Homo sapiens: one gene and its partners. The protein of the gene in region 2 interacts with the protein of the main gene of each other region in a biochemical or structural test. Each region holds a gene or a part of one and is shown on either strand. Other genes may lie near its edges.

Region 1 (4,310 bases), on a different chromosome or scaffold from region 2:
CAAGAAATCAGTCTGAGACTTAAGTGTTGAATCAAACCTATATTTGTAGTTTCTAAAATGCTGATCCACAGACCACTTTCTTGTTACACGTGTACCAATGAAAACAAAAGGCAAACAGAATCACTGCCATCCCTATGAAAGGAATGGTTCCTTTACTAACATTCTTTAAAAATATACATTTTACACTCCTTGCACCTCAACAAAGGCAGCAATGTAATAAATACACGGTTTATTTTGTCCTCCTCACACCAGGCGCCTGTCCACAAACTACCTGTTGTAAGCCCTCTCTTTTTTGGATTTCTCCAGGGCTTTGTCCATGGTCTTCTCGTTCTCCCCCCGGCACTTGGGACAGTACCACTTGCCCTTGGGTTTATGATTGAGCCCCACGCACGAGAAGTGGAACCACTCGATGGGGCACTCGTCGTTGTCGCAGCCGATCATCTCCCCATAGGAGACCTGGTTGCACAGACAGTACGTGGGTTCGTTGGGGTCGATGGGGAGGTCGGCAGGGGACGCCTCTCGCTCCGCCTTGGCCTTGGAGCGCTTCTTCTTCTTGGAGGTCTTGGCCTTCTTCTCCTTGGGTGTGCCCGAGGCGCCGTCGTCGTGGTCGTGGTTGCTGGACGCGTTCTCACGGTTCTCGTTGTTGCGCTGCCGCCGTGAGCGCTTGCTGTTGGGCTTGTCAGCCTGCGCTGCCGCCTCGCCTTTGGGCCTGTCCGCGCCAGCCTTGCCGCTGTTGCCCGCTGTGTCGCCCAGCTCCTGCTGCGCCTCGAACAGCTCCACGTGGCTGTCCACCTGCCGCGTGCGGTTCTCCACCAGCTCCACCATCTGGCTCACGATCTGGATCTTCTCGTCGCCCAGCTCCTGGCTGCGGATCAGCGCGCGCTGCACACAGTGCAGCATCCGCCGCTTCTGCGCCCCGTCTGTCTCGCGACTGAAGCGCTCGTAGCACTCGTCTAGCTCCTTCAGGATCTCTGGGGGCAAGAAGGACAGGCGTCACTCGCGAGCAGGACACCGGGACAACCCACACGGCCCCGGACGGGTCTACGGAGAGGGCTGGCAGGGAGCCTAGGGGCCAGCGCACGGCTTGCCCAGAACAAAGCCCACCAGCCACAGGCTCTCCCGGGCCTATCTGTTCCTGTGCTAACCACAACACAACACAACACAACACAACACAACACAAATGCCGGCCCAGCTTCCACAGCGGCAGGAGCCGCTCCAGCCACCCCAGGGAACCTGAGAACAGTTCCCAGGCACGCACGGGTGACAACGCCCGAAGCCATTAAGAGGAAACGTTTAAATGAGGTGCAGTGCTCGGGACCCAACATTTATTAATACTTTCTATTAATGACTATGTCTATACTGCCATCATTTTTACTCAAATGTTTCTATTTGAATACAATTATTAATATACATATAACATTATATAAACATGGTATTTATTACATTTATACACAATATACAAACATTAATAAAATATATTATAAATTATTTGAATATTTCAAATAAAAAAGGTCTTTATTTTCTTTATTTTAATATACCAACATCTAGAATACCCTGTTAAATGAGAGAATGTGTATAAATTTATATAATAGCTCTCTATGATTTAAAGAACCGGGTTAACAGTAAAGGTCCAGGATACTTTGTGACTTAGGTCCTCAGTTTCAGTCCCCACATTTATTCTAGCATGTTATCCCTCTGTATTAGTGACAGCAAGAACAGTTCTGCCACAATAATCCAGAAAACCTAGCTTTGCTTTATTATTATTACGACTTGTTATTATTTTGGAGACAAGGTCCGTCTCTGTCGCCCAGGCTGGAGTGCAGTGGTGCAATCTCGGCTCACTGCAGCCTCGACCTCCCAGGTTCAAGGGACCCTCCCACCTCAGCCTCCTGAGTAGCTGGGACTACAGAAGCACCACTGTGATGGGCTATTATTATTATTTTTTAACTGCAGTGAATGCACTAGCCTTGCTTTAAAGCGAAGCTGGTAGGTTTTACTTTTGCATCTACTGCTTAAACAAAAACATCTTCACATCTGTTAAAGTCAATGGACTTTAAAATGTTATCAAAAACAAAAGAAAACCTCTTCAGTATTTAAATGTAAACCTTCCTGGGCATGTTAGAGGACAGTGTATATGATTTTAAAGTGTAATTTGGCAAGTGTAATTAGGCAATTTCTCAAGAAACAAAAGCTATTAAAAAATCTAGTTGAAGTAAACAGCCTTGCTAAAAAGGCTACTTAAATACACAGAAATTCCAGAGTTCTTTTTCCTCAAACAGTAACCATTAAATTAAACAGTACCAGATTATTCTCCTAAAACCTTTTTGCAGTCTCTTTAAACAAGGCAACAATACTACCTTTTTTTGTTGTTGTTGAAACGGAGTTTCACTCTTGTTGCCCAGGCTGGAGTGCAATGGCGCGATCTCAGCTCACTGCAACCTGCCTCCCAGGTTCAAGCGATTCTCCTGCCTCAGCCTCCCGAGTAGCTGGGATTACAGGCATGTAATACCACGCCCGGCTAATTCTGTATTTTCAGTAGAGACAGGGTGTCTCCATGTTGGACAGGCTGGTCTCCCAACTCTCGACCTCAGGTGATCCGCCCGCCTCGGTCTCCCATGGTGCTGGGATTACAGGAGTGAGCCACCGTGCCTGGCCAACAATACTACTTGTAAACTAGGGGAGGGGCTGAGAGTGGGAGGGATTGTCTAAAATGTTACCCCCTTCCTTTCCAGATCTTATCTCCAAATAGTTATAAGACATATACCTAACACTAGAGTAAACATAAGAACTCAGGCCAACGCTGAAGCTTCTCTAAATGGTAATATTTTCCAGAGTATATTCTCAAACTAAAGACAGCTTTGAAGACTCCTAGAGGAACAATGCAGGCTGCCTGCCACCAGGAGGAAAGCCCTAGTCTCATATAGTAATTAATTATAAAAATAAATAGCTGTGTTCAACGTATCCAAGTAATACCAATTTATTCAACTTATTTATCATAATGTTAAAATATGTGTACCATTTATTTTTAAATGGATTTAGGGTTACAAAATGGTATCACTTCTTTTCATCAGTAATCAAAGTTCTAAAGACAATATTGTCATTTCACAGAAAACTGTATCATATAAATTTAAAATTTAATAACACAGAAGTTATTTTACATCACAAGCAAGCTTCCATCCAGGTGAAGCCTAATTTGTGGGCAAGAGAAACAGATATCCCATCGCAAAATTACCAAGAAGTATTTCTGTTACCTAATATTTCTTTGATACTCCAAGCAAAGTATTTTATCAACAAAGCCACTAAGTACAAATATTTATAAACAGGAACAACACCACTGCTAAATAGGAAGCCATCCTTCCAGACACTCTGCTTTTTCAATGCCAGCAACTCAGCTTCAGACACTACTGCCTTTTTTCCAAACATATTCCACACCAACATTACCATGGAAAGCAGCAGCACATGCAATTTACAGATTAAATGGGGTTGTAGCAACATTTAAATTGGTTTGTCCAATTATTTTAAATGTATTTTAATTTTACATACGGGTTGCACTGAAGTTCTTTATGAAGCGAACTTCCCAGGGGGTGGGTGGGTATTTTTATGATAATGTTTGAAAAATAATTCAAGCAACCTCAAACACCATTTTAAATCGACAAACTAATTATAATCCAAGTTTATGAATTAACATACAACTGATGCCTACTAAGCAAAAGACGTTTGACTTCCTACAGAGTAGGTCTGTGGAAGTCTTTCAGAACTACGCGGCAGAGCTCAGCATTTACACCGAAGTCCAAGGAGCTGTGACCCTTGCGACAGATTCGCTCGCTTCTCGGCGCTCCCAGCTGCGCCGCTCCAGTACTCCCGGGGGGGCAGGACTGTGATCTTTCCTGAAGCCAAAAAGTTCATCACCCTAGGTGAACATGAAGCAAGCAGCAAGCCAGGCTCTCCCCAGCAACGACAGGAGGACAAAGTGGCTCCATGAACTTTGCTGTCTGGACAGCTGGAACCCTGCACCCCGCCCCGCGCTACTTTTTTCTATCGTCGAACGATCAAAGTGGTCTCAGCCCCTGCCTTCCTTCCGTCCGGAGCCCCAGGGTCACCCCACGGGGCCCGTCCGGCCCGAGGACAGCACCTTCCAGAAAAGTTTCTGCGCCGAGGGTCCCCCTCGTGGACGCAGCCCCAGTCACTCACGTTTCCACGGCCACGCGCGGCCCCACCCTCGGGTCAGCAGAGATGCGGCCTGAAACTGTCTCCGAGCCGGCCCCGCGGGTCGCGGGAGGCGGTCCGAACTGCAGCCCCGGCCCCGAGCC
Region 2 (3,500 bases):
TGGGTCCCACTCACCAAAATGGGCTTTCTCTCTCCAAAGACAGGTACCCTTCCAAAGGTTAAGAAGCCCAAGAGTTTATTTGGAATAATTTTATTGTTTTAATGTTATGTTAAAAATCTAAATTATGTAAGAACACTCTCTTTCCTATTCACAACCAAAACTTTTTTTTTTTTTTAGAGACAGAGTCTCACACTGTCACCCAGGCTGGAGTGCAGTGGTATGACCTCAGCTCACTGCAACCTCTGCCTCTTGGGTTCAAGTGATTCTCCTACCTCAGCCTCTCTAGTAGCTGGGATTACAGGCATGCGCCACCATGCCCAGCTAATTTTTGTTATTTTTAGTACAGATGGGATTTCACCATGTTGAGCAGGCTGGTCTTGAACTCCTGACCTCAAGTGATCAACCCACCTCGACCTCCCAAAGTGCTGGGATTACAGGCGTGAGCCACTACATCCGGCCCATAACCAAAACTTAATGCCATGCAGCACATATTAGTAGTATTCAACTCAGGTAAAGAAAAGTCTATTTCTGTAGGACACACACTTAACAAGTGAAATGCTGGGAGCAATTTAACTAAGACTTCACCAGTTCTTTAAACAGAAAGAAAAGACTCATGCACATGGTCTTTTAAGATTTACAATTTTTATTTTTTCTACAAAATCATGGTAGCAAACCAATTATTTATAACTATTTACCTTAAAATTAAAGCTTTCTTTTGGGAATTTTTTTTCTTTTTTTCAAGATGGAGTCTTGCTCTGTCACCCAGGCTGGAGTGCAGTGGTGCAATCTCAACTCCCTGCAACCTCCACCTCCCAGGTTCAAGTAATTCTCCGGCCTCAGCCTCCCAAGTAGCTAGGATTACAGGTGCATGCCACCATGCCCAGCTAATTTTTTGTATTTTTAGTAGAGACAAGTTTCACCATGTTGGTCAGGCTGGTCTCCAACTCCTGACCTCATGGTCCACCTGCCTCAGCCTCCCAAAGTGCTGGGATTACAGGCGTGAGCCACCGTGCCTGACCCAGGGAATTTTTTAAATCAGTTTTCGTGTAACTAATTTTCTACCACTCAAATTCATAAATTCATTTAGCAAAATATCAAAATTTTCAAGATTTCTACAAATGACAATTTTAAGTAAAATAATATGTTTTGGTAGTTAATCAAAATGATAGCTGACACCTAAAATGGAATTTGGGGAAGATACAGAAAAATAATTCTGAGAGGAGAGGCCATAAGGCAGCTGGTATTGGTAGCCTTTGTAGAAAGGCAACATTTAGCTGCATTATAATTATAGACCGGGCTGGGTGTGGTGGCTCACACCTGTAATCCCAGTACTTTGGGAGGCCAAGATGGGCAGACTGCTTGAGTCCAGGAGCTCAAGACCAGCCTGGACAACATGGCAACACCCCGTTCCTACAAAAAACGGTACAAAAAAATAGCCAGGTGTGGTAGCATGCTCCTGTAGTCCCAACTACTTGGGTGGCTGGGGCTGGAGGGTCGCTTTAGCCTGTGAGGTGGAGGCTGCAGTGAGCCATGCTCCAGCCTGGGTGACAGAGTGAGACCTTGCCTCAAAAAAAAAAAAAACAAAAAACAAGCAATCAAACGCACACATAATTATAGACTGGAATATCTGGTAAAACACTAAGTAACTTTCAAAAGAAGGCAAAGAGAAGATAACGTTTTATATCATTTAAAAGTAGTATTTCCCTTTGACTACCGAGCATAGAAAGTGGTCCTTGAGGCTGGGCACGGTGGCTCACGCCTGTAATCCCAGCACTTTGGGAGGCTGAGGTGGGCAGATCACCTGAAGTCAGGAGTTCGAGCTCAGCCTGGCCAACATGGTGAAACCCTGTCTCTATCAAAACTACAAAAATTCACTGGGCGTGGTGGTGGGTGCCTGTAATCCCAGCTACTTGGGAGGCTGAGGCAGGAGAATCACTTGAACCTGGGAGGCAGAGGTTGCGGTGAGCCGAGATACCACACCACTGCCCACTGCACTCCAGCCTGGGTGACAGAGCAAGACTCCGTCTCAAAAAAATTAAAATAAAATACAATAAAATAAAATAAGGTTAGGACTGCTGATATTGGGAATGGGCAAAGAAGGGAAAAGTAACTACTTTTCCCATCCAGCTCCTGACAGCCACAATGTACTGAATGTCTTGTGCTGGCGTCCCATCAGTTAAGAGCCTCATGCTGCAGGAGCTCCCCAGTCTCAACCCTGCATCCTACTCATTAGGAAACCACTACCACACAGGCGGCAAATCACTGATAATAAAGCCAGCCTTAGGGCTGAAAACGAGTCACTAGAACACCAGCAAAATTTCCATAATCCCCAAAGAGTTAACGATTTGCTCAGATTTCAAGTAAATTGTTCTTATTTATTTGGGTGAACATTATACAGTGTTCAAGTTCCATAACTTTTTAAGTGGAAATACAGTACAAACGTAGCTAAAGCTAATTCCCTTTTTTCAGTTCAGACGCTTGGAAATGAAGACAAAGGGATAGACAATTATCGCTGGCTGTGAGCTGTTGTGGGCACTCCATTATCGACACATTCCTGAATAGGTGCTGAATTCCAGCCAGCTGTAGTCCAGACCGGCATCACTTTTTAAAAATAACCACTTTCTCTCTTCTTCAACATAGGTGATGGCTGCACAACACGGAATGTACCCAATGCCACTCAATTGCACTTGAAATCTGATGTGACTATGTGACAGTTATGTTACGCAACTTTTACCTCGATAAAAACACATCGTTTTCTCCACTCTTTTCAATAATTTAAAGATTGGCTTAATAAATAAGGCTTCCCTGAGTACAAGAGATGAAATCCTACTCTTAGGTTTGCAGTTAATCCAGGACTGCAATGAGGATGAACATTTAGCGCCATGTTGAATCTCAGTAGAATTCAAAAAACACATAGATTTCCAAAATAATCAGAAAAAGCACTTAATATCTGCTTCAGTTACTGGGAAGGCTAACACATGAAAGGCAAGCTGTATGATCTGTATTCTTTCCACGCCCAAGAAGAGAACAATTCAAGCCACATGACTTAGAATAATGGTTGGCAGAACTCCACCTCTGAAGAGTCTACAGAGGTACCATTACTCCATTAGTGATAATAGCTATTGATCTCCTGGAAGAGCCTGGGGGGGAGGGGGAATGGAATATTTAAGATAGAAAGAATTTGAAAGTCTATTGATCCCACTAGGAATATTTAGAAAAATTATGATAGCCTTTTGCCACCTTTGCCCTCCCACCCCTCATTGAGTTAAACTGCTTAACTCAGTAACTTCAACAAAATTAGTAACCCTGAACCTTTTCTCCCCAAGGCAAGTACCAGTAGCCTATTTAAAATATTAACTTCTCAAGAGACTAGTAAAAGTCAAAGGACAAGACAGTATTGTCTAATACGTAGGATACATCTAGGTGTTCACTCTCCTTCAATACAAGACTAAACATCTGTCTTAAAAGACCTAACATTCCTCTTTCCTTCTTTTCAAAAT
Region 3 (4,310 bases), on a different chromosome or scaffold from region 2:
TTAAGAAAAGAGGAAGTCAAATTGCCTCTGTTTGCAGATGACATGATTGTATATCTAGAAAACCCCATTATCTCAGCCCAAAATCTCCTTAAGCTGATAGGCAACTTCAGTAAAGTCTCAGGATACAAAATCAGTGTGCGAAAATCACAAGCATTCTTACACACCAATAACAGACAAACAGAGAGCCAAATCATGATTGAACTCCCATTCACAATTGCTTCAAAGAGAATAAAATAAATAGGAATCCAACTTACAAGGGATGTGAAGGACCTCTTCAAGGAGAACTACAAACCATTGCTCAATGAAATAAAAGAAGATACAAACAAATGGAAGAACATTCCATGCTCATGGGTGGGAAGAATCAATATCGTGAAAATGGCCACACTGCCCAAGGTAATTTATAGATTCAATGCCATACCCATCAAGCTACCAATGACTTACTCCACAGAATCGGAAAAAACTACTTTGAAGTTCATATGCAACCAAAAAAGAGCCCGCATCGCCAAGTCAATCCTAAGCCAGAAGAACAAAGCTGGAGGCATCACGCTACCTGACTTCAAACTATACTACAAGACTACAGTAACAAAACAGCATGGTATTGGTACCAAAACAGAGATATAGACCAATGGAACAGAACAGAGCCCTCAGAAATAATGCCACATATCTACAACTATCTGATCTTTGACAAACCTGAGAAAACAAGCAATGGGGAAAGGATTCCCTATTTAATAAATGGTGCTGGGAAAACTGGTTAGCCATATGTAGAAAGCTGAAACTGGATCCCTTCCTTACACCTTATACAAAAATTACTTCAAGATGGATTAAAGACTTACATGTTAGACCTAAAACCATAAAAATCCTAGAAGAAAACCTAGGCATTACCATTCAGGACATAGGCATGGGCAAGGACTTCATGTCTAAAACACCAAAAGCAATGGCAACAAAAGCCAAAATTGACAAATGGGATCTAATTGAACTAAAGAGCTTCTGCACAGCAAAAGAAACTACCATCAGAATGAACAGGCAACCTACAGAATGGGAGAAAATTTTTGCAATCTACTCATCTGACAAAGCGCTAATATCCAGAATCTACAGTGAACTCCAACAAATATACAAGAAAAAAACAAACAACCCCATCAAAAAGTGAACAAAGGACACTTCTCAAAAGAAGACATTTATGCAGCCAAAAGACACATGAAAAAATGCTCATCATCACTGGCCATCAGAGAAATGCAAATCAAAACCACAATGAGATACCATCTCACACCAGTTAGAATGGCGATCATTAAAAAGTCAGGAAACAACAGGTGCTGGAGAGGATGTGGAGAAATAGGAACACATTTACACTGTTGGTGGGACTGTAAACTAGTTCAACCATTGTGGAAGACTATGTGGCGATTCCTCAAGGATCTAGAACTAGTAATTCCATTTGAGCCAGCCATCCCATTGCTGGGTATATACCCAAAGGATTATAAATCATGCTGCTATAAAGACACATGCACATGTATGTTTATTGTGGCACTGTTCACAATAGCAAAGACTTGGAACCAACCCAAATGTCCATCAATGATAGACTGGATTAAGAAAATGTGGCACATACACCATGGAATACCATGCAGCCATAAAAAATGATGAGTTCATGTCCTTTGTAGGGACATGGATGAAGCTGGAAACCATCATTCTGAGCAAACTATTGCAAGGACGGAAAACCAAACACCGCATGTTCTCACTCATCAGTGGGAATTGAACAATGGGAACATCTGGACACAGGGCAGGGAACATCACACACCAGGGCCTGTTGTGGGGTTGGGGGAGGGGGGAGGGATAGCATTAAGAGAAATACCTAATGTAAATGACGAGTTAATGGTTGCAGCTCACCAACATGGCACATGTATACATATGTAACAAACCTGCACATGTACCCTAGAACTTAAAGTATAATAATGGAAAAATAAACAAAGAAACAAAGACAGATAAAACAAACAAAATCCTGTAAAAAAAAAAAAAAAGTACATAGCTTGAGTGAGTATCCATACTTGAACCAGGCTGTATGTAGTAGACCAAGGGTGTATTACCCTGTAGCCCATGATGGCTTTGAATGTGGCCTTGACGGCTTTGCATGTGGCCCCACACAAATTCATAAACTTTCTTAAAATATTATGAGATTTGTTTGTGATTTTTTGTGGTTTTTTTTGTTTGTTTGTTTGTTTTTAGCTCATAAATTATACTTCGTGTTAATGTATTTTATATGTGGTCCAAGAAAATTCTTCTTCTTCCAGTGTGGCCCAGGAAGGCCAAAAGATTAGACACCCCTAGAGTAGACTGAAGAAACTTCATTCACTTTACAAATATTTATTGAGAGTCTACTACGTTGAAAGTATTATGCTAGCTGCAGAGGGAGGATATGTGGTGCTTACTTCAATATTAGGTCATTTTTTAAAATATTTGAATATTAAGAAAGTTGTTAGCCTGGACAATCTAGCAAAACCCCCATGTCTACAAAACATATAAATACTAGCTGAGCATGGTGGTGCAGGACTGTGATTCCAGCGACTCGGGAGGCTGAGGCAGGAGAGTCACATAAGCTCAGGCATGCTGACGCTGCAGTGAGTGGTGATTGTGCCTGCACTCAAGCCTGGGTAACAGAATGAGACCCTGAAAAAAAAAAAAGGAAGGAAGGAAGGAGAAAGAAGGAACGAACGGAAAAGAAAGAAAGTTTTTTTACAATTGTAGGTGTTGACATGTGTGTGGACGCCTAGAGAGATTTCTTTGATGAACTTCCTGCATAGTCAGAGACAGGAATGACGATTTCTAAACTTACAGACGCTCTTACAGACATGGTTTCCCTGATCTCCATAAACTTTAGCTGGCAATTCAGGTGGAAACAGAAATAATATCTACAGTCCTGTTGCTTATAAAGGCAGTATATTAAGAACAGAAGTATTGGAAATTAACATATTTCATGTCAGTTTCATTTTTCATCTAACTCTGTGTCTTCTTCAAGGTAATTGACCTTCCTTATGCCTTAGGCTCTACATATGAGGCTAAATAAGAGTCATTCTCTCACAGTTGTTACAAATATTAAATAAATTAGTGTACAAAAAGCTGTAAGCACAGCAACTGACATGAAAATAAACCAATGATAAATATAGAAAAATAAAATATTTTAGTTGGAAAAACAGACAAGGAAAATTGTTATGTTCTATAATTTAAGCATTTATAGAGTGTAATGCAATAACATCTCATCAAATCTGAATATTGTATATGCTTAAAAGTTTTTAAAATCACTATCAGTAATGGACACTAGTAGTAAGAGGTAAAACAGCCAGTTGTGGTTGCTCATGCCTGTAATCCCAGCACTTTGGAAGGCTGAGGTGGTTTGAGATGGGAAGATCACTTGAACATAGGAGTTTGAGACCAGCCTGAGCAACATAAGGAGACCTCATCTCTATAAAAAATTAAAAATTAGCTGGGCTGGTGGCATGGTGCCTGTGGTCCCAGCTACTCAGGAGGCTGAGATGGGAGGTAGCTTGAGTCCACCCAGGAGGTTAGGGTTAGGGTTAGGGTTATGTGATTGCACCACATCAACTCCAGCCTGGGTGACAGAGCAAGACTCTGTTTCCAAGGTAAAGGCAAAATTCAAGAATAAAGATAACAGTACCTTGCATGTATGTTAAGCAAGCCTATTTTTAACTAACCTAAGTACAGAATACTTAACTATTATTCTCCTATTTCTTTTCTAATTTGGAATTTATCTGTATACAGTAGAGAGTTCTGAGACACACATTAAAGCCCTTAGAAGTTATTAACATTCCAGTACATGCAATGGGTTTCTTTTGTAATAATTCTGCAAGAATTTACCAGTTTCTGTTATAGAATATCTCTGGTCTCTGCCTCTCAGCCTATACTGTAAGTGTCTTACAATAAATTTGAATGCTACTCTTAATTTTGAGCTATTCAAAGGAGAGAACCTATACTAAAAATAGAGAAAGAGAGAAATAAAGGATGAAAAAGAGGGTACACTAATGATAACACTACACATGGTAAAACTGTATTTTAACATGTATTTGGACTTACTCTTTTTAAATTCATGAACATGTTTATCGATAAGTTTTAGGAATATAAGAAAATAATGAATTATTTTTGATATAGGACTGAAAATCTATTGCTACATATTATATAAATGAATGTTTTGAACCTTCTCATAACTGTAAGACCTATTTGAAAATACTAATAACAAAATCTTTCTCCATTAGCTTTCAATTGGAAAGTTTGATCATTTTTAATTGAGGTAACATTAGTTATAATAT
Region 4 (4,310 bases), on a different chromosome or scaffold from region 2:
GAAAGATTAAAATAAATTATTTAGAAGAGTTTAAATGGACAAGACCCAAAGCTAAAAACATGTAGCACATATTATAATCAGGAAAGTGGAAGCAATGTTATCTGAATTAATGCCTCAAGTTATATAATCCCTAAAATAAAGGACACTAATAATTTTACTTTGACAGAATAACGATGCCAACATAAATCTACCCGATACATTTTACTCTGTCTCTCCTTCAGCTTACCAGTTGACTCTCAGGAGGTCTTGTCTGGGAGTATGCAAGGAAAATGCACAAATATGAAAGGTTTTTCAAACAATAACAATTCTCTTGGCTTTGATGTCACTTCCTCTAAAAGACCAGGCTTGTCACTAAAACTATTTTCTTCATTGTTTACTTGAGGAGGGAACTGGGATCCCTGAATTTACACCACAATATTCAGGGAAAAAAGGATATTTTAAAAAGTAAAAATATTCACCTCAGTCTTCGTTTTGCAAGACTTTTAGAACATATTTTTTCCATACCACTCTGAACATTAAGCAAAGCTGTTATTGCTTGTTTTAAACATTCCTTGTCTTCTTGATCTTCACTTTTTTCTTCTAACTGCTGTAAAGCCAAAATGACAAATCTGAACCAGTAGTACATTTTTGGATAAAATAATAATAAACTCATTTAAGGATAAAAATAACATTTATTCAACTGTCACAATAAAAATTTTAAATGTGTCATCAAATATTCTTTTTAAAAGTGTTTTTCTTGTGTGTTACTATTAATACACAACCAAGTTTTCTACATTAAAAGACCAAGATTAGCAGTGTTAAGATGGGTTATATCTTGTGACAGGCAGTAATATGTAGTTTTTCAAGGTGCATACCACTGAAAAGAAATGGGGAGCATAATCGATCTACTGAATTATCATAGAGTTAGCATACCACTAAGCATGTAGACGAGGTTTTTTTTTTTTTAAGTGTGGAATTTGGTCTTAGGTTTCTGACCCCTATATTATTGTTATATAATATTGAGATGATAAGGAAGATAAATATACAGAGAACGATGCAATATAGTAGAAGGAATCTCAATTACAAAATCTAGGATCAAATTTTGACTCTACTTCTGTGTGACCTTGGGGCAAGTCACTTGATCTCTGAGTCTTACTTTTCCCATTTGCCAAATAAGGCTTATAAAAAGCCTACCCTGCCTACTTTTAGGGGTTGTTATTAAAAACCAAAGCACTTTGTAAATGGTAACACACAATGTAAGTGTAAATGGTTTTCTTTGTAATTATACTACAGAATTAACATTAGTATAATAAAGAACTTTGTCCATATCCACATTAAGATTTTGAGTGAAGCTATAATATACATATTTATGAAACTGAAACTCAAGCATATTTTCTATTACTGGCAAATATCTGTGTCAGACAGAACGTCTCTACTTAACAAGAACTAAGTCATCAGTAACTAATTGTCAATACAGTAAGGTGGCTATGATTCAAGCAAGCACTTAACAGATGTATGAGTCACAATAATTCACTCATACATCTTAAACCTGTTCCTGGTTACCAAAAGGAAAAGTTAAGAAATCACATATTGGCTGGCTGCAATGGCCTATGCCTATAATCTCAGCACTTTGGGAGGCCCAGGTGGGAGGATCGCTTAAGCCTACGAGTTTGAGATACCGTCTATTAAAATAAAATAAAATAACATTTTATCAATAGAGTTTTCATCCAACAATTTAGGAATACCTACTCTCTACCATGAATGAAAAGACTTGAGATACACAATCATGAAATATTCAAAGTGATTTATAAAGAAGTTTATTTTTCTTTTTTTTTTTTAGATGGAGTCTTGCTCTGTACCCCAGGCTAGGGTGCAGCGGTGCAATCTCAGCTCACTGCAACCTCTGCCTCCCAGCTTCAAGTAGTTCTCCTGCCTCAGCCTCCCGAGTAGCTGCGATTACGGGTGTCTGTCACCACACCTGACTGATTTTTTTTTTTTTTTTTACTTCTAGTAGAGACAAGTTTTCACCATGTTAGCCAGGCTGGTCTCAAACTCCTGACCTCAAGTGATCTGCCTGCTTCGGCCTCCCAAAGTGCTGGGATTACAGGCGTAAGCCACCATGCCTGGCTAGAAGTTTACTTTTCAATTAGCTTAAGTATTCATTAGTACATTAGTACTTTAAGGATTTTGTGTTTTTCACAGGTATTCCTTAAAGGTCAACAACACATTCCTTTCTGCTTCAATTGATAAAAATCAGTTACATGCATGCGCATGCACATACCACATGCACTGATGACCTGTGAAAAGTAAACAGATTTCTTACTTATATTCTAAACCATTTTTATTAAAATTTACTTAAAATACTTTAATGGTCAAATATTCTAGAAGTAATGAATACCATATTGTAATGTTTAATACTTAGCTTTTATTATCCAGATTTCTTATATTCATTATTAAAAACTCACCATACTTTCTACTAGAGGCATAATCTACATTTTTAGGAAAATTTTCAGTCTTAACTGTGTTAAGTAAAAGAAAAATTTAGGCTGGGCACGGTGGTTCATGCCTGTAATCCCAGCACTTTGGGAGGCTGAGGCGGGGGGATCACGAGGTCAGGAGTTTGAGACCAGCCTGGCCAATATGGTAAAACCCCGTCTCTACTAAAAATACAAAAATTAGCTGGGTGTGGTGGCACACGCCTGTAGTCCCAGCTACTCGGGAGGCTGAGGCAGAAGAATCGCCTGAACTCAGGGGTCAGAGGTTGCAGTGAGCCGTGATCGTGCCACTGCACTCCAGCCTGGGCAACAGAGTGAGACTCCGTCTCAAAAAAAAAAAAAAAAAAAACAGAAAAATTTATTCCTAACAATTCTCAACATAAAAAGGGTAACGAAAGATATTTTCCAAAGGATAAGAGACTTTAAAAGTGTACATATTAATACAAAAATCAAATATCTTTTATTCATAATATTGTTCTTCAATATGGCCAGCTAGATTAAAGAAAGCCAATGGCCAGGGTTCATAAAGAAAGATACTAGGTTTTTACTTAACAGATATTACTAGTAGGCTGAAGGCTGGAATCCAGGTAATCTCTCAAAGTACCTTCCATCCCTATCATTTGAAACTATTTGCCTCTCACATGGCAGAATTCTGGGAGACAAATAAAATGTTACCATTAAACATTATCAAGTTTAGTCTTTAAAGCAGCAGATAATCTAACATTGAAAGCTATATACCAGGGGTATCCAATATTTTGGCTTCCCTGGGCCAAACTGGAAGAATTATTATCTTGGGCCACACATAAAATATACTAACACTAACGAGAGCTGATGAGCTTTTTAAAAATTGCAAAAAAATCTCATAATGTTTTAAGAAAGTTTACAAATTTGTGTTGGGCCGGGGGTTAGACAAGCTTGCTGTATACCTTAAGGCAAATTTAATGAAAGCACCACTGAACGATGAATTAGTTCACTGAGTTGATTGAGAATTTAATCACTCAAAAGCAAAGCCCAGAGAAATTCAAGTCAGTAAGATACAAGGCAATTTTTCGGTCTTAAATAACTAACAGGTAGCAGAATATTGAGCATTTGATATTTTGTCCTGGATACATTTTTTATATTTTTAATTCAGGAAAACATACCTAATGGTAGACAAAATATATAATTCTCATACACATAAAAATATTTATAAAAGAAAAAATCCACTTGGACATCCTTTGATTTTCTATCCTAAAAATGTTTCAAGTTTTGGAATCATTTATCTACTATTTAACTGTAGCATTTTACATACAGAATATTCTGGTATCTCAAAAATGTTAATATTTTAAAAGCCACAAACCCAAAGTACATTTCAAACCCATAAAACTTTCCTGATGAAATACTTTTAAAATGTCATTTTTACCTTTATAGCATTAGGCAAGCCTCTAAAATAAATTTCAGTGTAATAAATGACCTTTCTTCTACCACTTTTTGCTTCTTTTACTTAACATAGCTAATTTAAACTTGGCACTGGTGCAATATAATTCAAGCTAACTACCATCAAAAGGGTGGCTTATTGTGGCTACAGAGACAAAGCAGTGGCAATTAGTATGTAAATGAGACTCAACAAAGCAGCATCCTCTTGTTACCAGTGATATTCAATACCATGCTTTTCATGAGTGCCTATTTAATAATAATGTGCAATAGTAACAATTACATTTGTACAAAGGCAGTTTATTTGAATAGTTTTAAAAAAAGTACTAAATCCTGAGATTATATTACCATATGAGATTGTACTTAAACTCATCTAGGGAATCATATTATTATTTTTTTTTTTTTTTTGAGATGGAGTCTTGT
Region 5 (4,310 bases), on a different chromosome or scaffold from region 2:
ACACATTCTAAGAAATTGCATGGTTAAGTGATTTCGTCTTTGTGCGAACATCTTCGAGTATATTCAACACAAACCTAGATGGTATAGCTGACTATACATCTAGGCTACATGGCATAGCTCCTGGGCTATAAACCTGTAAAGCATGTTACTGTACTGAGTACTGTAGGCAACTGTAACACAATGGTAAGTAGTTGTGTATCTAAATACATCTAAACATAGAAAAAGCAATGCATTGTGCAGGGAATGGAGAACTTGAATTATTTATACCCTAACACCTGGTGTAAATTCAGATATAGGAAAATGAAAGAATTATATGAATTTCTGAAATAGCAGTGGTGAGAAAAGCACCTCAGAACTGACACAAACATATATTAAATGCACATAAGAAGGCTAGTTTTACTAGTGATGTATACCTAAAGGGATATGGCATACTTTACCACTAGTATCTGTGTACTAGTCACAATATTTGCTTCTCATTTTTCAAAGCTTTTTATAATACAGAATGAAAATGCCATCAACCCTGTTATATACAGATCCACTTCACCTCCCTTTATTTGTTTTTATCTGAGAAGGAGTCTCACTCTGTCGCCCAGGCTGGAGTGCAGTGGTGCAATCTTGGCTCACTGCAACCTCCGCCTCCCGGTTCAAGCGAATTCTCCTGCCTCAGCCTCCCGAGTAGCTGGGATTAGGGTCACACACCACCATGCTCAGCTAATTTTTCTATTTATCTCCCGTTATTTGGAGGTTATTTGTCACTACAAAACTTTGAAAGAGTTATGTTTTGTTTCACAGAGGTTTAATCTTCATTAAACCTACCCAGCTCTGTGATTGTTTTGGGCTTCTCAGTTTCCATAGTGTCTGGATTTTCTGGCATTTCTTGAATATCATCTTCTGCAAATCCGGTATCTGGGCTGCTAGTTGGCTTATCATCATCTTCATGACTCAGAGATGGTGAAGCATCTCTCTTACTTATCTCCAAGACAGCTGCTAGAAGCTCTTCTTCGCTCATTCTGTCAAATCCTGAGTTTTCCAATTCAGACTTGTCAGGCTCTATTGGGCATAATTTTGAATCCTGAAGAAGAGAGTTACTTTTAGAAGAAACCAGAATACCTACAAATATAGCAATCTTAATTAGTATTTAAAGTAGCAACTTTATTTCTAAAAAGTTTCCTTTCTTTGATGCTTTGGGTTATTTAACAATCAATAACCAATATATAAACTAAATGGTGAGTCTAACTTTAAAAATAATAAATACATAAGAATACATTATTTTTTCTTGATTGAAATAAGTATATATTTTGTACAAATTTGGAGAATACATAAAAATAATAAAATAAATTCATTCAAAATAGATTACTCAGAGATAATTACTCTAAGTATTTTCAATTTATTTTCTTCCAGATATATATAGATTATACAGTAAATATTCTATCATTATGCCTACTACACCATTATAAATGTTAGCTGATCTTATTAACAATAAATGAGAAAAATAAACACGACATCAAGATTATGTAAAGAAGGCTGGGCGAGGTGGCTCACGCCTGTAATCCCAGCGGTGGATCACCTGAGGTCAGGAGTTTGAGACCAGCCTGGCCAACATGGCGAAAACCCGTCTTTACTAAAAATACAAAAATTAGGCTGGGCGTGGTGGCTCATGCCTGTAATCCCAGCACTTTGGGAGGTCGAGGCCAGCAGATCACTTGAGGCCAGGAGTTCGAGATCAGCCTGGCCAACATGGATAAACTCCATCTCTACTAAAAATACAAAAAAATTAGCCAGGCATGGTGGCACGCACCTGTAGTCCCAGCTACTAGGGAGACAGAGAATCGCCTGAACCTGGGAGGTGGAGGATGCAGCAAGCTAAGATCACACCACTGCACTCCAGCCTGGGTGACAGGGCAAGAGTCTGTCTCAAAAATAAATAAATAAATAAATTAAATAAAAAACCAAAACCCAAAAATTAGGGAGATGTTGTGGTGTACGTCTGTAATCCCAGCTACTCAGGAGGCTGAGGCAGGAGAATCACTTGAACCTGGGGGATAGAGACTGCAGTGAGCCAAGATCGTGCCACTGCACTCCAGCCTGGGCAACAGAGTGAGACTCCGTCTCAAAAAAAAAAAAAGATTATGTAAATATTCAAAAGTTGTTTTCTGGGAGAATTTTGGACTTTCACACATTTCTCATTCAAGTTGAACAACCACAAACTACCTCTGGCTTTAAAGTAAGATAGGAAACAGAACAAAAATAACTACTAAAATAATTCTATTATTTAAAAGGGAGGCTTAAAATAAAATACAGTAGCATAAGATAATGCAAACACCTAGAAAAGCTTAGATCTTCAAAGTATTAACTATCCATATAATTATCTATATATTAATCCAATTAATAAATCCATAATTTAAACAATTAGATTACTTGGTTGCTCTGTTGATGTAAAATGTTTACTACAGTTCCCTCACATAAACAATTGCTACAGGCTGGGAGTAGTGGCTCATGCCTGTAATCCCAGCACTTAGGGAAGCTGAGGTGGTAGGATCACCTGAGCCCAGGAATTTTAGACCTGCCTAGGTCACACAGTAAGACCTTGTCTCTACAAAAAATTTTAAAAACTAGCCAGGCATGGTGGTACATGCCTGTAGTCCCAGCTACTTGGGGAGCTGAGGTAGGAGGATTGTTTGAGCCCAGGAGAACGATGCTGTGGTGAGCCGTGATTACACCACTGTACTCCAGCCTGGGCAACAGAGCGATACCCTGTCTTAAAAAACTGCTACCAAAATAAAGCAAGTAATTATTTGAGGACGAATATGCAAAAGTAGCTTTGAAGGGCAAAAAAAGAAAGTAATTTGTTTAGAACAACGAATTTCTCGTAAGTCTTGATCCATCTGTAAACAGACTGATTTCTGTAGCCAGAGAAGGCATTTTCTTTAAAACTAATTAGTTTGATGATGGTTATGAAAGACATTTGTTTGGACAGTAAGAGATAAACAAATCTTTGTCAGATGTTTTAAGAAAATATTACTTACTTTTTCCAGGTCTTCCTGCTGCTGTTCGTTGCCTAACATTTCACAAAGTCTCTGGCTGAGGGCCACAGAACGTTTTAGCTCATCCTCACTGTCTGAATCAAGGCATAAAGCCAAGGAGCTCTTGGATTTGAAGGTGAATTTCCTGTAATTTAAGGAAAAAAAAAAAAGCCTGATAAACATTTGTCTTTGTTATTCTTTTATTGTAAAAATATCAAAACAAATTGCTTTTCCATTACGGAAAATTACTTAACAGAAAAAAAAGATATATCAAAAGAGGTATATTTCAGCATTACCTTTGCCCCACTCCAAAAGAGCCATGCTTTGAAAACTGGACAACTCTTATGCTACTACGTATCATCAGTAAACTAATCATGTTGTGCCTTTTTTCTTTTAATGATCAACCCCAATGAAATTTGCTATTGTCTTTATAAATTATGCTATTGAATTCATGCAGGCATAGCAATGAATAAATGTTTTTGACAACAAAGTGCATGAAGACTAATTTGTGATCTTTTAAATTATGATCCATGCACTTTAAAAATAACAGTAACATTCCACTTATCCACTTATCTGTAGGTCAGACTTCTGGCAACCTCTACTTTCCAGAACATAGGGATTCCAAAGTAAGAAAAAAGGCTTCTGAGGAAGGCAGTTCCAAAGCCCATGTACTTAGAGGGACCCTTTCTTTCCCAGGAAATGGTGAATAAAATAGTGTATCAAGTTCATCAAGAAATGAGAGCTAAGAAATGAGAAAGAATAACCACAAGAAAGGCAAACAAGAACTATAAAGTCATTTAATGTAAAAGCAAACTATCTTGTAATAATTAAGAGCCTCTGAGGGCAATATCATATTGAAACACAGTGCAATAATTGATACTTAAAATGCTGATTCTAAGTCATTAAGATATACTTAAATTATCCTTAGTTATTTTAAGAATGTAAGGAACAGTGTAACATATTTTAGAAACATTTTCATCCAAACTGTTAAAAATCTTTTAAAAGATAAATCGTTAAAAGGTAAGCTTCAGTTATATAAAAATTCACTTATGTGGAATCCTTTAATGATGCCAGATAAGTAAGGTGTTACTGTGTTGTCTTCTAGGTAAGCCGAAAATAAACTAAAGAAAAAAGTGGTAAAGGTCAAAGAACAAGAACTTTCTTTGATGGAGGTTAACACAAATTCATATGCAATACAAAAAATATATATAAAATGAAAACTAGAAAATACAATTAACCTGAATGTAAAAACTGAAAATAAACATATAGACTAATGGCACCAAGAAA
Region 6 (4,310 bases), on a different chromosome or scaffold from region 2:
AACTAAAATACATTTTAAAGTAAAAATCACATTTCCTAGTTGTCTGTGTCAGACAACTTTACTAGTATACTATAGTATTATTAACTACCTTAATTTTTGTTGACATTAAATTTTACTTGAAGATGATAAAAAAGTAGCAGCAATGACAGGGATAGCTAATACTAGAAATACAATAAAGCTCTGCGATAATGCACCTGAGACAAATGTAAATTTTGGTGAAATGTGACTGACGACTGCTTTCTGTCTTCTGGCCACTCTTATATTCTTAAACAGATACACTAAAATTATCTTGTGGAGGAAAGAAAAGGAACAAATGGCAACCCCATCTGGAAAACCAGGAAGTTAGGATGAGTACCTGAGTTTCCAGTATTTCCCTGCTCAATCTCCCTGGACTTGATGTTACAGGCACCACTAATCCCCAGATTTTTGGAATAGCTGCTGTTTTCCAGAAGTTCCAAGACCCAGAGTTGTCTCTATGAATTTTTAAGTGGGAAGAAACTACCACAGCCAGGCAGTGCCGTCCACACAGGGATATTCTAAGTGGCCCAGCAGGACTCAACTCTTACTGGCAACAGGCACTGATCTGCCATGGTCACTTCATCAAGTCCACAATAATGCAACTCTGAATTTTACACGATGGAATTTTTTGGACACTACCTATAATTTTATGGTATGGTTTTACTGTACCATTACTCCCAGTTCAAGACTGCACATCCACACTTATTATTGGGTATCTCCACATTTCTCTTGTTCTGGTCTTTGTCCAACACTCTATTCTCTTCTGAATGAAAGAAACTTTGGATTTAGTTTTCAAGATTTAGAAAACCCATTCTTTTTCAAAGATAGCATGACCATTATATAATACAACCGATACTTTGTAGAACACATCTATAAACTTGCACAGGAACAACAAAAGTATAATACTTATATAAGATCAGAAATGTCCATGTGTTCCTATGCTATATGGTATCATTTTTTTCAGTCACTTTTAAAATGAATTCACTGAACTGTATCATGATATCCCCATTATTAGGTTTTTAATCTAGCAGCCCAACTTACCCGGACAAGTGCATCATCTATGATATGGTCACGTCTAACTTTGAGTCTCAAATATGGATTCAACTGCTGTCCTTGAACTAAGCTGTAGAGAACAGTGATTCTTCGTTCACTGTACATGCGAATTCTATTGTCATAATATAATCCCAAATTCTTTGTGACAGCATTCAATATAAAGGGACATGTCATAAAAGAGAATTTGTTCTCTGTTTCTACTTTGAAAAAAGTATAATCTTTATCCATTTCTAGAACCTCATTCAGTGGTTCATTAATAAACTCTTCAAAAGGGATAAGTGGTTTTCGACAATCCAGGGTTTTAACACCAAGTTCAGTTTCCAGGGGGTCCACTCGAGGACCTTTCTTGTTTCTTCTTTCTTCTCCCAAAAGTTCCTGAAGTGTCAGCTCGCTGGACTCAGGGATGGGCTCTTCATCATCTTCTTCATTGTGATTTGTGTCCACTTCCCCTCCCACTACATTTGCATAGTAAACCATTTTCAAGCACTTCGAAGCAGCAACAATGGCATCATCATCATTCACTAGATTTCGACTGTTAAATTCATTGCTTATGACTTTATAAGTAATAAGTTGCTGAAATGTCTCCATCATTCTCCGAATCTGGTCTGCATTGTATTTAGACCACAGTCTGATCAGTTTTCCTTGGGCTGCAAGGGGTAGCTTGCTCATCGCTTTGCAAAATAATGGCAAAGCCATTTCCAGATATTCAGGACTGTGGAGATTTCTATTCTCCATTACGATAATGAACAAATTCAGATAATTAGGATCTCGAGAGTATACATTGTGATACGTCAAGTCACATTCCACGTTAGGTGACAAATATACAAGTGCATTGAGAAAGGCAGTTTCAATTTTTTCATTAGAGAGCAATCTGGTGTAGACCCTTCTAATGGCATCAATATCCACAGACACATCATCAGGGCCTAATTTTTGCAAATTGTTGTCTCCCTGTGAGCTATCACCTATCCTTGAGGAAGATGCTTCTGAGTCTTCTTCCATAGCAGCAGCAGAACATGCAGCTTTTTCCTTTTCATCTTCATCTTTGTCTTCATCTTTTGCTTGAAGAGATTTCAGTTCTTCCTTGGTGTGTTGTTTAACTTTCCGGAAGCTCTGTACCAATGCCTCAGCACTAGAAAAAACTCTTCCAATAACACGGATTAAAGGGGAATAATCCTCTCTTTCTCTACATAATTCAAGAATTTCATATACCTTCTCTTCTGTTAAGTAAGTCACATCTAGAAAATCAGAGGAAAAAAGAGAACATTTATTTTCATAATATGTATGTTTACTCTGTTGCAAAAAGTTCTAAAAGTAAAACAGCCAAACATTCTAGGCTCAATATCATTTATGATATACAACTCTTAAAGTATCTAATACTTAGATTCAGCAAACAAAATTTAATGCTTACCTATTTTTTTCAATGAACTACCTACCTATACCAATGACCTCACCCATGCTTTTACATTCTTTCAACAATGTATAACTCTTAATAAGATCATGAGTTTAAACTTTCTTTATAATCAAGATATCTATTAATGTATAGCTTTAATTATAAATATGAACCAATATGTCATGTACTGATTAATCATAATACAGCTCTTAAAACCTCACTGTAGAACACACAGAAATACTACTAATCTGTGAGTTTTCTTGTTTCAGTACTCTGTTCTCCAAAGACTAAGAAGGCAAGGTCTTAAAAAAAGGCTCCTTCAGCATCTATGTATGTATTAAAATCAAACTGGTTCATTTTGGGTCTTCCTAGTTTGTTCCAGGGTAGTCATTCTGTGAGTGATTGAGAAGAATATACCATTTCTCATCGGCTCTTAAGTAGAAACTGCTTTCCACAGCCAGGAATCAGGTTAGACTAAATCTCATAGAGTGACAGAAAATAGTTTTTGAGCAATGAAAACAAACAGTGCAAAGAAGTAAACTTATGAGCTGGCAAGCAGTGCAGAGACTATGTAGTCATCAAAATCTATTTCCTCTTTTCCTGGGCACAGAGTTGGACCACATTTCCCAACTTTTTGAGATAAGTGTTATTTTCAGGCCAAGGCTTTCTCCCTTCTGGCTAATAGGATGAAAGATATTTCATTTCACAGGTAAAAACAAATGATATATTTTGTGTACTGACCAACATAATACTGAGAATAGTCTTAATTCTCCCTTTTATCAATAAAGTGACATACTTGTCATCATCAGATTAACTACTTGAGAGGTTAATTTTAGAGGCACACAGACAATCCTACCTCCATTGCGCCAAATATACCCTTATACATGTAGTGTACAACATGTAGAATTTTTAATGACTCCCACCTCTGCTATAATATATGTTTCACAATGAAAGACAATATAAAATGTAAGTGATCATTGAATGGTCTCCAAAAATTGAAGCACAAAAATACCAAATTTTATCATACTAAGGATCTGATCTGTGGCCCAGCTACAAGAGTACCAACACTTACAGTTTCTTTTATGGGCCTTAACTCTTTAAGAACTAATTCTCAGGTTTGTTCTATTAAGAATATATAAGCATCTTTTGCTAAACATCAGTAACCTCTTCCCCAAAAGCATAAAACCACTGGAAACCTATTTCTCATTATTTTCATTGAAAATTTTTAAAATACCTTCTTACAAGACAATGCAAAACTCCTAATTTCCTAAAATGTAACATAACAGAAAATACTACTATCCTATTAGGACATGAAACACTTTGCTTCCTGAGCAAGTCATAAGGTTAACAAAGACTTGCTTTGCATGCAGTAATATGGCCTGTCCTAGGGATCACCATTCTAGACTCACATGTCCTTTGTTGATATGTCATGCTTTCGGAACATCTTCAAGTGATTCTGACAGTCTACTAATCCTATATAGAATGTACCTATACTTTTTCCAAGGAGTGTTTTTTGTTGTTGTTTTTTGACATGGAGTCTCACTCTGTTGCCAGGTTGGAATGCAGTGGCACCATTTCGGCTCACTGCAACTTCTGCCTCCCGGGTTCAAACGATTCTCCTACCTCAGCCTCCCAAGTAGCTGGGACTACAGATGCACGCCACCACAACTGGCTAATTTTTTTGTATTTTTAGTAGAGAGGGGGTTTCACCACGTTGGCCAGGTTGGTCTCGATCTCTTGACGTCGTGATTCGCCCGCCTCAGCCTCCCAAAGTGCTGGGATTACAGGCGTGAGCCACTGTGCCTGGCCTGTAGTGTTTAATATGTTAAACTGAATTTTTCAGGTATAT
Region 7 (4,310 bases), on a different chromosome or scaffold from region 2:
ACAGACCATGTTTAGAGAACTATTCTGGGTTTTTACTAGGATTGACCACTTTTAGCATATTTGTCAGCAACCGATCAAAGTACCTAGCACCAAATTGTTCCTAACATATCCCTCCATGTTCTTCTCCATTCTGGAGGCAAGGGTAAAATTAGGAGAAATGAAGGGCTTTGGAATAATTCCATACAGTCTACCAGGTTTCTGGATATTAGAACAGAAAGCTCAGTTTTTGAATCCCTGTTCCAAACAAATGGTAAAAGTGAATTTTAAAATTCTATAGAAAGAAATACCTGCAAAATCCCACACATTTAGGACGAGATCTCTCTTTCTTTTGTCTCTTATTTGGATAGGCCAGTCTTTCACATCTATGCCAACTGTGGCACTTTGCATTCCAAGATCTGATTTCTTGGTTTTCATTAATTGCTGCAATAAGGTGGTTTTACCACTCCCAGTATTTCCCACAATCATAAGTTTCATTCGGTTATAAGGCACAGCCTTTTTTAATCGCTGTTGAAGAAACCTAGTATTTGAAAGATAAAAATAAAATAATAAACTGCTTAAAAGTATACTTGAGATTTAGGTGAGTTCTTTTACATGTCACACTATTCTAAAATATAGTATCCAGAAGAGTGCATATCTCATATAACTAATAATGTACATGTCTTTCAGAGTACTGTTAATGCATATATTTTGCTAGAGATTTTAGGGTAGTTGATAATGTTTGGTAAAATCACCAAAGAAAACATGTTACACTATCACCAGAAATAATCAAAAGGCCAAAATATGTTTGCAATACTAATTAGAATACGATATGCAATATATATATACCTCTATATATACACACATATACATACATGTATACATATTCTAATGTCTTTAAATAGTATGAAAAACCCTACAAATTATACGCCAGGTGCGGTGGCTCGCACCTGTAATCCCTGCATTTTGGGAGGCCGAGGTGGGCGGATCATGAGGTCAGGAGTTTGAGACCAGCCTGGCCAATATAGTGAAACCCCGTCTCTATTAAAAATCCAAAAAGTAGCCGGGAACAGTGGCAGGTGCCTGTAATTCCAGCTACTTGGGAGGTTGAGGCAGGAGAATCGCCTGAAGCCAAGAGGCAGAGGTTGCAGTGAGCCAAGATCAGGCCACTGCACTCCAGCCTGGGTGACAAGAGTGAAACTCAGTCTCAAAAAAAAAAAAAAAAAGAAAAGAAAAGAAAAGAAAAACCCTATAAATTATAAAGTTCAAAATTTCACAAAGTCCATATGACATAGAAACAAGGTAGAGATATATGTATACTGTTAAAGCTTGATAATAGGGTCATATTAGTTACATTATATATGTGTGTGTATATATTCATATATGGTATATATGATGTATAGCTATATATTCATGTATATCACATATGCATATAATAGTATATATGGATAGTGAGATCACATAACATCATAAATAAATATAAACTATTATACTATCAGCAGATGTTAGCTTTCATTCCTAATGATCTTAATGTAAAACCTGAATGAAATAGAAGTGTTTAGGTAGCTAAAAAACCACCTTTAAACTAATAGTAGAGTCAAAGTGTTATCAAAAATATAATGGATAGAGAAAGATATATTTTGAAATATGTTAAAATGTTGCCACAGTTTCAAATTAGAGAAAAAGACTAAATCATAAGTGAATTTTACATCAGAGTAGTGATCAATTCATTCCTGTAACTAATAAGAATCTGACCAACATTCCTGATGATATGACCAAAAAGCAACATTACCTTTCTTGATTTATTTCTTAAGAATGCACCACTATTTGAAAAAATGTCTTTCTTCAAAAAGCAAATGATGCCTACAATTTCTAATCTGCTCTAGGTCTTTCTGTCTTTTCTGAAAATGTTAAACATGTTTAAAAATATTTAGTTATATATTAAATTAAATATTAAATATTAAAAATATTTAGTTAGATAATACAGTATAATACACTGAAAGCTAGTTCTACTAAATGTTTAGTAAGAACTGAACCAATTTTTATATGACCATCTTTTCCAGTTTCAAGAGAGAAAAATAATTGGGTAGGATGAAGGGTAGCCACAATTAGCACAAAAGATAACAAACTCCTTTAAAATGAAATCAAGCTCAGGAGTTCAGAAAACAAAATCCTTCCTCATAAAAACAGATGAAGTTAAATATAAATTTAAGAGATTTTAGGCAGAAGAGAATGAGTAAGTATAAATCACTGGTAATTAAACAACTATTAATTGTATGCCAGGCACTGTGTTGGGTGCCAAGATTTGAATAGTGAGTGAACACAGCCATGGTCTCTGCCTTGGTGGATATTACAGTCAAGTTGAGAGGTGATGACAGAGCTGAGGTCTGCAACGTTAATACAGTAACTGTGGAAAAGGGAGCAAAGGATTTTATGAGAAAGTAATAAGACCGATGTGCTGAAAGGGAACAAAAAGGAGGATAAAATCCATTACCAAAGATATTTAAAGTGCTTAAAGTGTAAAGACCAGAAACAGTGATACTTGAGAAGTTTTGGTGCTTTCAAAACTGATCAAGGTGAGTAGATTACTCATCCTAATGGGCAAAATAGAAGTTAGTAATTTCACATGATGTCAGTAGCTATAATGCTTTAAGATGTAAGAGGCATATGTTAACTAGTTGCTATATGAAATACAGTGTGAGAAGTTATTATACTGTGCTGTATTTCTTTAGATTGTGTAATTGGTAACCAGAGACCAAATAGCAATACTTATTTTCTTTTAGAGTCTACTCCACTGAAAAGAAACAGAAGGAGGAGAAGCCGCTCTCAACATTAGTCTGGCTAAGAAGAATGAGAAATCTCTACAGTGGCACCACAGAAACACATTCATTAAATGAAAGGCAAATGACACACAGCATATTAATGCCAAATATTACTATTTATTTTTCCCTAAATAGTAACAATATATGTCCATCAAAGTCACAGAGAGTAGAAAATCTGAAATAAATTTAGTAAAACCAAATAGAAAAAAATTATCTAACCTTATGATGTCTTTGGCTTTACATCCTATATGTTTAAAATCAAAGTTAAGATGCAGTTCATCCAAAGGAAGATCCCATATTTTGCTTAATTTCCCCATTTCATTGGGAAAGGATCTTAGTTCCAAGTTGTAACTGACATCCAGAGATGTCAGATTTTCAAGACAGCCAATCTCAGGAGGAATCTTAATGGGAAAAAAAAGGGCAAAACCTGTTGGTGGGAAGGAAGAAATGTGCTCTGCCAAAAAACGTGATAAGAAACAAGAAAGGCTCACAGATTCCATCAGCAGCTTGCACAACCTTTCAACAGAGTTTTAAAACTTTCCAAAGGTTTGTCATAAGTTGTCAGTATGTGTTTAAAAACATAAAAACTTACATATAAAAACTTACTCCCAAACAATCTATGTCACTCATCTGTAATATTAAAAAACCCAATCTCCTTTGGTAACATACTTCATCTCTTCAAGACATTGAAAGTAAGGAAGTTCTTACCACAAAATGGATTTGGTTATCCATTATCTGTGACTTCATTCTGCTCCTTCAGTAAAGGCAAGAAGACCTAGTCACTACAAACCTGCATGCAATTTAGTGTTCTCAAAGTACAGCTACATGCTTATACTTTAGGTGGCATCCTAATTGGAGTAATTTCTTTTCTGTTCCAAATTTTTAAGCAATATATACTATATTTATAATAGAAAACACTCATTTGCTGGCAAAAAATCAGGTAGCAAAATATATGCACAGTTTTGCTGAACCTCACAGTGTCAGACACTTAATTCTTTTGGTTTTTGTAGGCAATACGCTAGAACTTGAAAAATAATATTTTCTGAGACAAACAAATTATCAATTTCAGATTTACAACAGAGAGAATGGAGCAAAACAAAAAAGGTTGATCCATTAGGGTGATAGCATGGTGGCGGAATGCAGAAATTTAAGAATGTACCAAGGAAAGCTGAAAAACAAGTAATACAGTATACAGGCCAGTAACAACTTGAGAAAAATGGTTTATTTAAGAGTCTGTTAACAGATTGGACAGAGATTTGGTGATACAATGACACACAGCATCACATTCATCTATAATTATGTATATATTCATATAATCCTTTAAAAGTATATCACAAAAGTAATTTTTTGAGGAAATTATGCTGTGTTACCATATCCATTTACCATAGGGTAGGCTTACAACTTGTTTAAAAAACAAAAAAAAATTGAATGGTATTGATATTTACAATGCTTATTTTGAATTTATAGTTATTAAATGACATCCACTACTATTCCATAGAACACTCTTTATGA

Evidence for each region.
Region 1: the proteins of YWHAG (region 2) and ING1 form a complex in vitro, tested with the Homo sapiens proteins (one study listed by BioGRID).
Region 3: the proteins of YWHAG (region 2) and SAMSN1 form a complex in vitro, tested with the Homo sapiens proteins (one study listed by BioGRID).
Region 4: the proteins of YWHAG (region 2) and SOS1 interact in a biophysical measurement, tested with the Homo sapiens proteins (one study listed by IntAct).
Region 5: the proteins of YWHAG (region 2) and USP37 form a complex in vitro, tested with the Homo sapiens proteins (one study listed by BioGRID).
Region 6: the proteins of YWHAG (region 2) and UBE3A form a complex in vitro, tested with the Homo sapiens proteins (one study listed by BioGRID).
Region 7: the proteins of YWHAG (region 2) and LRRK2 interact in a biophysical measurement, tested with the Homo sapiens proteins (one study listed by IntAct).

Annotation. Positions count from the first base shown.
Region 1 is NC_000013.11:110,715,890-110,720,199, reverse strand, and holds part of ING1 (inhibitor of growth protein 1), read right to left. Parts: coding exon of another isoform or gene 4,192-4,310; intron 972-4,191; coding exon 268-971; 3' UTR 1-267. UniProt on the Homo sapiens protein: Cooperates with p53/TP53 in the negative regulatory pathway of cell growth by modulating p53-dependent transcriptional activation. Implicated as a tumor suppressor gene.
Region 2 is NC_000007.14:76,352,492-76,355,991, forward strand, and holds part of YWHAG (14-3-3 protein gamma), read right to left. Parts: intron 1-3,500. UniProt on the Homo sapiens protein: Adapter protein implicated in the regulation of a large spectrum of both general and specialized signaling pathways. Binds to a large number of partners, usually by recognition of a phosphoserine or phosphothreonine motif.
Region 3 is NC_000021.9:14,539,330-14,543,639, forward strand, and holds part of SAMSN1 (SAM domain-containing protein SAMSN-1), read right to left. Parts: intron 1-4,310. UniProt on the Homo sapiens protein: Negative regulator of B-cell activation. Down-regulates cell proliferation (in vitro). Promotes RAC1-dependent membrane ruffle formation and reorganization of the actin cytoskeleton. Regulates cell spreading and cell polarization. Stimulates HDAC1 activity.
Region 4 is NC_000002.12:39,023,552-39,027,861, forward strand, and holds part of SOS1 (son of sevenless homolog 1), read right to left. Parts: intron 587-4,310; coding exon 459-586; intron 1-458.
Region 5 is NC_000002.12:218,473,814-218,478,123, forward strand, and holds part of USP37 (ubiquitin carboxyl-terminal hydrolase 37), read right to left. Parts: intron 3,169-4,310; coding exon 3,027-3,168; intron 1,073-3,026; coding exon 817-1,072; intron 1-816. UniProt on the Homo sapiens protein: Deubiquitinase that plays a role in different processes including cell cycle regulation, DNA replication or DNA damage response.
Region 6 is NC_000015.10:25,369,507-25,373,816, forward strand, and holds part of UBE3A (ubiquitin-protein ligase E3A), read right to left. Parts: intron 2,307-4,310; coding exon 1,060-2,306; intron 1-1,059. UniProt on the Homo sapiens protein: E3 ubiquitin-protein ligase which accepts ubiquitin from an E2 ubiquitin-conjugating enzyme in the form of a thioester and transfers it to its substrates.
Region 7 is NC_000012.12:40,304,674-40,308,983, reverse strand, and holds part of LRRK2 (leucine-rich repeat serine/threonine-protein kinase 2), read right to left. Parts: intron 3,200-4,310; coding exon 3,018-3,199; intron 518-3,017; coding exon 288-517; intron 1-287. UniProt on the Homo sapiens protein: Serine/threonine-protein kinase which phosphorylates a broad range of proteins involved in multiple processes such as neuronal plasticity, innate immunity, autophagy, and vesicle trafficking.